Linked DNA regions of Homo sapiens: region 1 is linked to region 2. Evidence: fine-mapped expression QTL. A gene starts in region 2. The other region holds a variant in brackets. All regions are shown on one strand. Distances are between the middles of the regions. Region 1 overlaps CYTH1 (cytohesin 1). Region 2 holds the start of SOCS3 (suppressor of cytokine signaling 3).

What was found. PIP is the estimated chance that this variant, and not a neighbour inherited with it, causes the effect.
Region 1: its variant is the best candidate, but not a certain one, in a credible set for the expression of SOCS3 in kidney cortex (GTEx, PIP 0.84).

The regions. Positions count from the first base shown.
Region 1 is chr17:78,747,206-78,752,573 of GRCh38, reverse strand. The region is part of intron 1 of CYTH1 (cytohesin 1); the gene reads left to right. Among named protein-coding and RNA genes, the nearest start is that of CYTH1, 32 kb to the left of the region's middle. RefSeq lists enhancers at 3,471-3,540, 3,601-3,660. The variant C/T (reference allele first, on the strand shown) is at 2,331.
Region 2 is chr17:78,357,156-78,362,523 of GRCh38, reverse strand. It overlaps SOCS3 (suppressor of cytokine signaling 3), which reads left to right and starts at 2,447. Exons shown (of 2, transcript NM_003955.5): 1 at 2,447-2,774; 2 at 3,341-5,368. The coding sequence starts at 3,429. The coding sequence ends at 4,106. SOCS3-DT (SOCS3 divergent transcript) reads right to left here and starts at 2,076. Exons shown (of 5, transcript NR_110847.1): 1 at 1,751-2,076. RefSeq lists silencers at 1,546-1,595, 1,826-2,025, 2,086-2,395, 2,406-2,685, 3,096-3,335 and enhancers at 2,443-3,091, 5,038-5,368.

The DNA of each region.
Region 1 (5,368 bases), 390 kb before region 2:
GTAGTCTCAGTTACTCGGGAAGCTGAGGCAGAAGAATCACTTGAACCCAGGAGACGGAGGTTGTGGTGAGCTGAGATCACACCACTACACTCCAGCCTGGGTGACGGAGCAAGACTCTGTCTCAAAAAAAAGAAGTTCTCTGTCCTGTCTGAGATGATCGGCAGCATTGTTTATCCCTGTAGCCCTGGTACTCTTTATTGATAGTAGAGATTTTACTCCAATTAGGTACTTTTTAAAGGTAATTTCTATGAAAATCTCTATAAAAATGCTTATTAAAAAACTCCTTTACAGTGGAAAAGAGTAATAACTAACATTTCCCTTTTTCCTCACAAGCTCTAAACCTACTAGAAATAGAAAAAGAAATCTGAACATGGAGATCATATGATCAGCCTTGTAACTGGCGAAGAGAGGGAGATGGAGGAGTCCTTATTTCAAACATCTAGGAAATATGTTGCAAATTAGTAAAATAGGTTAAATTTCTCCGTTTCTTTCCCAGTAATAGGATCTTTGAACTAGACTATTTGAAATTATCATTTGAGGCCGGGCGCGGTGGCTCACGCCTGTTATCCCAGCACTTTGGGAGGCCGTGGCAGGCAGATCATTCGAGGTCAGGGTTTCGAAACCAGCCTGGCCAACATGGTGAAACCCTGTCTCTACTAAAAATACAAAACAATTAGCCGGGTTTGCAGTGAGCCGAGATCATGCCACTGCACTCCAGCCTGGGTGACACAGTGAGACTCCGTCTCAAAACAAAACAAAAAACAAAAAAGATGAAATTATCATTTGATATAACCAATAGCAGAGAGATACCTGTACTCTGATTCCTTCTTCGTTTATGCAGTCAATCCTTGTTATTTGTGGATTTTGTATTCATGAATTTTCCTACTCACTAAAGCTTATTTGTAACCCGCAAATCAGTCCAAAGGTAGTCCTTTCGTGGTCATTTCTGGACATTCACAGAGCAGTGAAAAATGCAGTTTGCTCAGTGTACACATTTCCAGCCACTGTGAAACAAGGTGACTGATTTCTTGTTTCAGCCCTCATACTGTAAACAAATGACCTTTATGTGGTCTATTTAGCATTACATTTTTTTTTTTTTGTATTTTTGTGCCTTTGCTGGTGACTTGCTCTTTAAAATAGCCCCTAATCATAATGCTGAATTTCTGTCTATTGTTCCTAAGTACAAGAGGCCATGATGTGCCTTATGGAGAAAATATAGTATGTTAGCGAAGCTTTGCTCAGGAATGAGTTACAGTGCTGTTGGCCATGAGTTCAATGTTAATGAATCAACAGTTGGCTGGGCATGGTGGCTCACATCTGTAATCCCAGCACTGTGGGAGGCTGAGGCAGGTGGATTGCTTGAGCCCAGGGGTTTGAGACCAGCCTGGGCAACACGACGAAACCCTGTGTCTACTAAAAATAGAGCCCATGTCCCCCCGCCATGCGCCCATGGTTCCAGCTATTCAGGTGGCTAAGGTGGGAGGATTGCTTGAGTCTGGGAGGTAGAGGTTGCAGTGAGCCAGGATGTCACCACTGGACTCCAGCCTGGGTGACAGAGTGAGACCCTGTCTTAAACAAAACAAAACACAACAATATATATTAAATAAGCCATCTTTAAACAGAAACCCATATAAACAAGGTTATGTATTGTTCAGTTGACAAAAGTGTGACCAGAGGTCTGTAGGAACCTAACCTGTATTTCCCCTAGGAGCAACGGTTTAGTCTTTTCCAATTCAGTGTTAGCAATGACTATTTTTGTTTTTTTTTTTTTTGAGATGGAGTCTCGCTCTCTCGCCCAGTCTGGAGCGCATTGGTGTGATCTCGGCTCACTGCAACCTCCACCTCCCGGGTTCAAGCAATACTCCCTGCCTGTAGCTGTAGCTGGGATTACAGGCGCCCACCACCTCACCCATCTAATTTTTGTATTTTTCATAGAGATGGGGTTTCACCATGCTGGCCAGGCTGGTCTCGAACTCTGACCTCGTGATCCACCCGCCTAGGCCTCCCAAAGTGCTGGGATTACAGGCATGAGCCACTGTGCCCGGCAACAGCAACAACTTTTTAAACAATAACTACTTTGAATAGCAAGAATCAGCTATAGCTTAGCCCTCTTCCTACCCCTAAACTTCAGGCTGTGACATCCCAGTGCCACATTTGACATCTCCTGGGGGATACCTACAGGGTCTCTCACAGTTGGCATGGCCACAGCAGAGCCCCTGGTGCTGTGTCCCTCTTTATTCACCCCACCTGAGAAATAGCATATCCGCTCACATAGGTGTTCCCATCAAATGTTTTGAATGTTTTGATATCAGCCTTCCCTTTCTCTTGTT[C/T]TGCCTATCCAGTTCATTAGTAGTATGGTTTATTCTACTTCCAAAACGCATCTTGAAGTAATCTGTTTTTCTGCATCTCTGCTGCTGATGTGCTAGTGGAGGCCACTGAATTACTTGCCTGGATGCCACATGAGCTTCCCGTAGCTGATGCCACTCTGTGCACCCATATCTCATGTTCCCTTCCTTCTGGGCACGTGGAGAAGCATATTCTCACCCCCTGGCCATTGATTTGCTATCCTTTTCAGACCCAGAGGGAGCAGGCTAAGAAATATTTTGTGGAATAAGTATGTGGTATTATTTTAGGAGCACTTGGTATTTCTTTGGGTAATAGTAGTTTCTGCAATTTGAGGACTGCTTCTAAACCTGTTAGGAATATTTTTTGAACTGTAAGGGAATTTTTTTTTTAGGGCAGAGAAACATCTGAACAATGTATTAAGTAAAAGCTTGGAGAAAATCTTGGGAAAAAAACACTTCAAAAATAGATTGTTTTAGAGTTCTTTTTTTCTGAAACCACCTGCCTTCTAAAGCAAGATAATTAGATTTTAAACAATGGTTTCTGCTTAGTTAGGTTTTTTTTTATTTTTTTATTTTTATTTGTTATTATTATTTTTTTGAGACAGGGATCTCAATTTGTCACCCAGGCTGGAATATAATGGCATGATCATAGCTTACTGCAGCCTTGACCTGTGGGCTCAAGCAATCCTCCCACCTCAATCTCCTGAGTAGCTGGGACCACAGGCACACCCACCAAACTTGGCTAATTTTTAAATTTTTTTTTGTAGGGGGGATGGAGTCTCAATCTGTCACCCAGACTGGGGTGCAATGGCACAATCTCTGCTCACTGCAACCTCTGACTCCTGGGTTCAAGCAATTCTCCTGTCTCAGCCTCCCGAGTAGCTGGGATTACAGGTGCCTACCACCATGCCTGGCTAATTTTTATATTTTTAGTGGAGACGGGGTTTCGCCATGTTGACCAGGCTGGTCTTGAACTCCTGACCACAGGTGATCTGCCTGCCTTCGCCTCCCAAAGTGCTGGCTGGTCTCAGACTTTTGGGCTCAAGTGATCCTCCCACCTTGGCCTCCCAAAGTGCTGGGATTACAGGTCTGAGCCACTATGCCTGGCCTAGTTTGTTTTTAAATCAATAACAGGTATCAAGAAGTTTGGACTGGCTGACCTTGGTGGTCTTACTGCTGCCACCTTTGCTCTGCCTCACACAGTATGTGGGTGTGTTGGGCCCTTCTCGCAAGCTCCTCTGTCATGTGATGGTTCCGTCTTCAGGGCTGTGGCAGGACCGCGCTGGTTCAGTTTGCTCTGTGTCAGCTGAGTAAAGGATGGGTGGAGTACACCAATTTTGTAACTTGTAACATTTGGTCTTGTGGTTTTGCAAGGAAGGGGTGATATATAATTAGTAAGGCAGGAGAGCAAAGGAAACAGGAAGGGGATCTGCAGTGCTCCTGTATCAAAGTAGATCTCCAAAGCAACAAGGGACAAAAGCAAGCACACTCCTCCCGCCCACCCGTTTTTACTTACTCTTATTTGATCAGAGAACTTTGCTTTCATAAACATCCTTGAATTAAGGCTGGAATTTTTTGGTAAAAATTCCTAACTGAATTTGGTTTAGAAGTATACAGAAAACCCAATGAATTAATTGAATAATCTCCCTTACCCCCTTCTTCAGACAATTCTCCTGTATTCTCTCAAGTAATAAAAGTACTAGAAAGATCAATTGTATTTATCATTAAATGGCTGGTGCTTATAATTTATTCCTTGAATCCAGTTAAACAGTGAGCTTTCCTGATAACCTAGGCATTGTTGTCCCCTACAGTAACCTGGGCCTGTTGGATGTGTAAACATTTTCCTTTGACCCAGGACTGTGTTGAAACTATTTGTTAATCACACAGCAGGATGATCAATACTTACACCAGCTGACGGGACACCTGGCATGACTACTCAGTGATCCAGTAAAACCACGCCAAGCTGGTTCCATAGAGTTTTCATTTTTGATGATAGGACTCGTAGCTCTCAGAATCAGAGAATGTTTAGAGGTGAAACTTACCACAAATGTGGGTCAGCATCTTTAGTTTGTTTCCGGTGTGTGGGGTGCAGTGGCGGACAGTGAGAGAGCCATGTGATGGGAGGAGGCTGCAGAGCTGGACTTTGAATAATGGGTAGGGTTCAGAAAAGTAGAAAATATTGTGAAATTTATTTTATTTTGTTTTTTTGAATGAAGCAACAAAAACAGAGATTTATTGAAAATGAAAGTACACTCCACAGTGTGAGAGTGGACCCGAGCATAGGGGCTCAAGGGCCAAAAATACTGTGAAATTTATTTTAATCAAAGTGGAACATAGATATAGTTTTAAAGATCCTATACAACACAAAATTTTACGTGCTTATAGCAGCAGTTTTCATAAGAACCCCAAAGTGGAAACAACCAGATGCCATCAGCTCATGAGTGGGTAAAGAAGATGAAGTCTGTCCCTACAAGGGAAGATTCTTTAGTCATAAAAAGGAATGAAGTTCTGACACATGCTGCAACATGGCTGAACATAGAAAACATTGTGCCAGGTGAAAGAAACCAGTCACACAAGGCCATGTATTAGGCAAATCTGTAGAGGCAGAAAGTAGATTAGTGGTTGTCAGGGGTTTGGGGATGCGGGAATGGGGGTGACTCCTATGGGGTATGGGGTTTTCTTTTGGGGATGATGAAAATGTTCTAGAATTAGATAGTGGTGGTGGTTGCATAACTTTGTGAACATGCTAAAATCACTGAATAGTATTCTCTAAAAATGTCCTGCCTCTCCCAGACAGTGCCTCCTCCCCGCAGATGTTGACCTCTAGATCCTTCAAGATTGGGACCGCAGTGCAGTATTTGAGTCTCCCCAGATCTCTTCCTAAATACCAGAGAATGCTGCTGAGAGTGTGCATTTTCTTAAAAGTCACTCCCCTCGTTAGTATACCTGTGCCACTATCTTCCCACCCCTCCCAGGGACTTTTTCTATTCTTACTCTACGAGCCTGGCATACTCTGGGCCTTC
Region 2 (5,368 bases):
TTGTGAAATGTGTTGAATAAACCAGTTTCCTCCTCTGCTCTCCTGATAGGCTGGAGGGAGAGTTGAACTAACTGGGTTACTTCTATTTCTATCACGCTTTGATGTGCAGAATCTTTTTTTTTTTTTAATTTCAAATCTCTTATGGCAAAAGGTTCTTTTTCTTTCTTCCTTTTCTTTTCTTTCTTTCTTTCTTTTTTTTTTTTTTTTTTTTTTTGAGACAGAGCTCTGTCGCCAGGTTGGAGTGCAATGGCGCGATCTCGGCTCACCACAACCTCTGACTCCCTGGTTCAAGCGATTCTCCTGCCTCAGCCTCTCAAGTAGCTGGGATTACAAGCATGTGCCACCACACTCAGCTAATTTTTGTATTTTTAGTAGAGACGAGGTTTCACCATGTTGGCCAGGATGGTCTCGATCTCCTGACCTCGTGATCCACCCGCCTCAGCCTCCCAAAGTGCTGGGATTACAGGCATGAGCCACCATGCCCGGCCCTTTTTATTTCATTTTATTATTATTTTTTTTAACAGGGTCTCACTCTGTTGCCCAGACTAAAGTGCAGTGGCACGATCATGGCTCACCGCAGCCTTGACCTCCCTGACTCAAGCGATCCTTCCACCTTGGCCTCCCAAGCAGCTGGGACTACAGGCACAGGCCACCACTCCTGGCTAACTTTTTTCTATTTTTTGCAGAGATGGGGGTGCTCACTTTGCTGCCCAGGCTGGTCTTGAATGTCCATGCTCAAGTGATCCTCTCGCCTCCGCCTGCCAAAGGGAAGGAAAAGGTTCTGGCTCCAGTTTTACAGGTGGCAAAACGGAAGCCCAGAGAAACTGTGTGTCTTGTCCAAATCTCACTGAGTCCCCAGCACATGCTGGGGAGAGGTGATGGCACGGACTGAGGATACAGTGGCAAAGGCAGTGCGCACCTATCAATTCCAGGGCCGGCAAAAGGGCCAGTTCTGGGTTCTGGCATCCCAAGCTCCCTGTCCCTGGCGGCAGTCTCTTCCTTCCCTTTCAGCACCTCATTATCCTGGTATCTAGGAAGAGCGCAGGGCCCCAGGCCCACAGCGTCTGCATCCCGAGAGGTGAAAATCTAAATGCCACTGAGGCAGCTCTCGGGTGTCCCCAGCACCACACAGCCCATTTGGGGACAAGATGACAAAACTTGCCATCCTTCATAAGGCTGGCCCCGGGTCTCCAAGCCCAAACTATCTACGTCAGTGCCAACGTGACCAGCAGCAAACCAATCTTTCACCTCAATCACTTCCTCTCCTCCCCTCTACCCCCTCCCCGCCAGTGATCAAGTCCTCCCCCACCCCAAGAGAGGCAGGGGGTCACATTCCAGGGGGTGTGGGCCATCTGGCAGTAGCCTGAACCCCGGAAAACTGCTTTCCGGAAATTCTCTCCTGCTAGAATTTTATTCCCAGGTCTGACCCCAGCCTGGGGTGTGAATGCCCCCTTCTCGGCCACCTTTCCAGCTCCGGAGACAGCCATTCCCGCAGATCCCTGGCGTGCCTATTCCAAGGCCTGGGCCGCGCAGCACCAAACTGCCCTCCCCTAGGAGACCCCAGGGCGCCCTCTGGCGGACGCGGGCCGTAGGTTGGGGCCATCGTTCCACCTCGAGCTCTCCAGCCCGGCCGAGAGCACCTGGCCCAACCCACACCGGACCAACCAGGTTTGCAGACCCCAGTGCATGAAAGCGTTTTCATAGGGGAGGGGAGGGGGGCTCCACACTCGCGTCAGGGTTGGCAAAGAACCTGGCAGTGGGCCGAGGCTGGGTAGCTGCCACGAAGGGGCGTCCCCTGCAGCCCTGGGTCTCCCCTCTGGAATCTGCCCGCAGGTGACTGTCGCACGTCTCCAACCTCCGGCTCCCGGGTCTGACCCCAGCCCCGCTGCCTGGCTGTGGGGTAGCCCCACTTCCCTTTCGGCTGGCCCGGGCCGCCTGACCCGCAGTTGGGCCCTCGGGGAGGCCCGGGTGGCGGCGAGGGGGTGTCCCCGCGGGGTCCGGGAAAAGGGGAAGGGGAACCGGGAGGCTCTCCAGGTCGGCCTCCTAGAACTGCCCGCTCTCCCGAAGCGGCGCCCCCGCCTCTGCCAGAAATCAGCCTTCTTAGAAGGGAGGGGGGTGGGGGGAAAGTGTGAATGAGAAGTTGGGGGCGGAGCGCGCGGCGGGGAGGGGCCGCTGCCAGGAACGCGCCGCCGGGGCTGGCGCCGCGCCCACCGGCCGCCTCGGCCGCCTCTCGTCGCGCTTTGTCTCCGCGCGCGTCCCTCCCGGTCCCTGCCCCTGCTCGCGGCCCGCCCTCGGCGCCCGCGGCCCCTCCCTCACCCTCCGCGCTCAGCCTTTCTCTGCTGCGAGTAGTGACTAAACATTACAAGAAGGCCGGCCGCGCAGTTCCAGGAATCGGGGGGCGGGGCGCGGCGGCCGCCTATATACCCGCGAGCGCGGCCTCCGCGGCGGCTCCGACTTGGACTCCCTGCTCCGCTGCTGCCGCTTCGGCCCCGCACGCAGCCAGCCGCCAGCCGCCCGCCCGGCCCAGCTCCCGCCGCGGCCCCTTGCCGCGGTCCCTCTCCTGGTCCCCTCCCGGTTGGTCCGGGGGTGCGCAGGGGGCAGGGCGGGCGCCCAGGGGAAGCTCGAGGGACGCGCGCGCGAAGGCTCCTTTGTGGACTTCACGGCCGCCAACATCTGGGCGCAGCGCGGGCCACCGCTGGCCGTCTCGCCGCCGCGTCGCCTTGGGGACCCGAGGGGGCTCAGCCCCAAGGACGGAGACTTCGATTCGGGACCAGGTAGGAAGGAGGAGCGCGGCGTGGGGAGGGGTCTCGCTCAGTCCCGGGAGCTTTTCCCGGTTTCCCCTCCCCTTCCCGGGTCATTCCCGGCAGGGAGGTGACGAGGTAGGGGCAGAGCGGATGGAAGCCGGAGATCCCAGGTTCCCGGAATACTCCGGCTGGGGCCTTCGGGCTTCTCCTGTCCCCTCCCTACCCCCGTGCCTCGGGTTTCTCCCTCCGTCCACACCGCCCGGGGCTACTGGACTGAGCGGCGCCCAGGCAGTCCCGGGGGCCCTTCTCCTGCTCCCCACCCGGCCACACTCCTGGAGACCTAACTTCCGCGCGCGAGTTTCCCACGCTGCGCCCTTGCAGTGCGCGCCTGGGAAGGGGCTGCCCGGGGCCACCCTGCCGGCAGGGGCGGGAGCCGTGCGGGCTCCGTGAGGCGCCTGGATCGGAGCGCGGGCCCAGGAGAGGGCCCCCGGGGCAGTGGGTGCCCCAGTCGCTCGGCGAAGGCAGGGGAGCCGGGGCGGGCCGGGCGCGCTGGAGGGTTCCGGGCACTCAACGCGCTCGCGCCTTCCTCTCCGCAGCCCCCCGGGATGCGGTAGCGGCCGCTGTGCGGAGGCCGCGAAGCAGCTGCAGCCGCCGCCGCGCAGATCCACGCTGGCTCCGTGCGCCATGGTCACCCACAGCAAGTTTCCCGCCGCCGGGATGAGCCGCCCCCTGGACACCAGCCTGCGCCTCAAGACCTTCAGCTCCAAGAGCGAGTACCAGCTGGTGGTGAACGCAGTGCGCAAGCTGCAGGAGAGCGGCTTCTACTGGAGCGCAGTGACCGGCGGCGAGGCGAACCTGCTGCTCAGTGCCGAGCCCGCCGGCACCTTTCTGATCCGCGACAGCTCGGACCAGCGCCACTTCTTCACGCTCAGCGTCAAGACCCAGTCTGGGACCAAGAACCTGCGCATCCAGTGTGAGGGGGGCAGCTTCTCTCTGCAGAGCGATCCCCGGAGCACGCAGCCCGTGCCCCGCTTCGACTGCGTGCTCAAGCTGGTGCACCACTACATGCCGCCCCCTGGAGCCCCCTCCTTCCCCTCGCCACCTACTGAACCCTCCTCCGAGGTGCCCGAGCAGCCGTCTGCCCAGCCACTCCCTGGGAGTCCCCCCAGAAGAGCCTATTACATCTACTCCGGGGGCGAGAAGATCCCCCTGGTGTTGAGCCGGCCCCTCTCCTCCAACGTGGCCACTCTTCAGCATCTCTGTCGGAAGACCGTCAACGGCCACCTGGACTCCTATGAGAAAGTCACCCAGCTGCCGGGGCCCATTCGGGAGTTCCTGGACCAGTACGATGCCCCGCTTTAAGGGGTAAAGGGCGCAAAGGGCATGGGTCGGGAGAGGGGACGCAGGCCCCTCTCCTCCGTGGCACATGGCACAAGCACAAGAAGCCAACCAGGAGAGAGTCCTGTAGCTCTGGGGGGAAAGAGGGCGGACAGGCCCCTCCCTCTGCCCTCTCCCTGCAGAATGTGGCAGGCGGACCTGGAATGTGTTGGAGGGAAGGGGGAGTACCACCTGAGTCTCCAGCTTCTCCGGAGGAGCCAGCTGTCCTGGTGGGACGATAGCAACCACAAGTGGATTCTCCTTCAATTCCTCAGCTTCCCCTCTGCCTCCAAACAGGGGACACTTCGGGAATGCTGAACTAATGAGAACTGCCAGGGAATCTTCAAACTTTCCAACGGAACTTGTTTGCTCTTTGATTTGGTTTAAACCTGAGCTGGTTGTGGAGCCTGGGAAAGGTGGAAGAGAGAGAGGTCCTGAGGGCCCCAGGGCTGCGGGCTGGCGAAGGAAATGGTCACACCCCCCGCCCACCCCAGGCGAGGATCCTGGTGACATGCTCCTCTCCCTGGCTCCGGGGAGAAGGGCTTGGGGTGACCTGAAGGGAACCATCCTGGTACCCCACATCCTCTCCTCCGGGACAGTCACCGAAAACACAGGTTCCAAAGTCTACCTGGTGCCTGAGAGCCCAGGGCCCTTCCTCCGTTTTAAGGGGGAAGCAACATTTGGAGGGGATGGATGGGCTGGTCAGCTGGTCTCCTTTTCCTACTCATACTATACCTTCCTGTACCTGGGTGGATGGAGCGGGAGGATGGAGGAGACGGGACATCTTTCACCTCAGGCTCCTGGTAGAGAAGACAGGGGATTCTACTCTGTGCCTCCTGACTATGTCTGGCTAAGAGATTCGCCTTAAATGCTCCCTGTCCCATGGAGAGGGACCCAGCATAGGAAAGCCACATACTCAGCCTGGATGGGTGGAGAGGCTGAGGGACTCACTGGAGGGCACCAAGCCAGCCCACAGCCAGGGAAGTGGGGAGGGGGGGCGGAAACCCATGCCTCCCAGCTGAGCACTGGGAATGTCAGCCCAGTAAGTATTGGCCAGTCAGGCGCCTCGTGGTCAGAGCAGAGCCACCAGGTCCCACTGCCCCGAGCCCTGCACAGCCCTCCCTCCTGCCTGGGTGGGGGAGGCTGGAGGTCATTGGAGAGGCTGGACTGCTGCCACCCCGGGTGCTCCCGCTCTGCCATAGCACTGATCAGTGACAATTTACAGGAATGTAGCAGCGATGGAATTA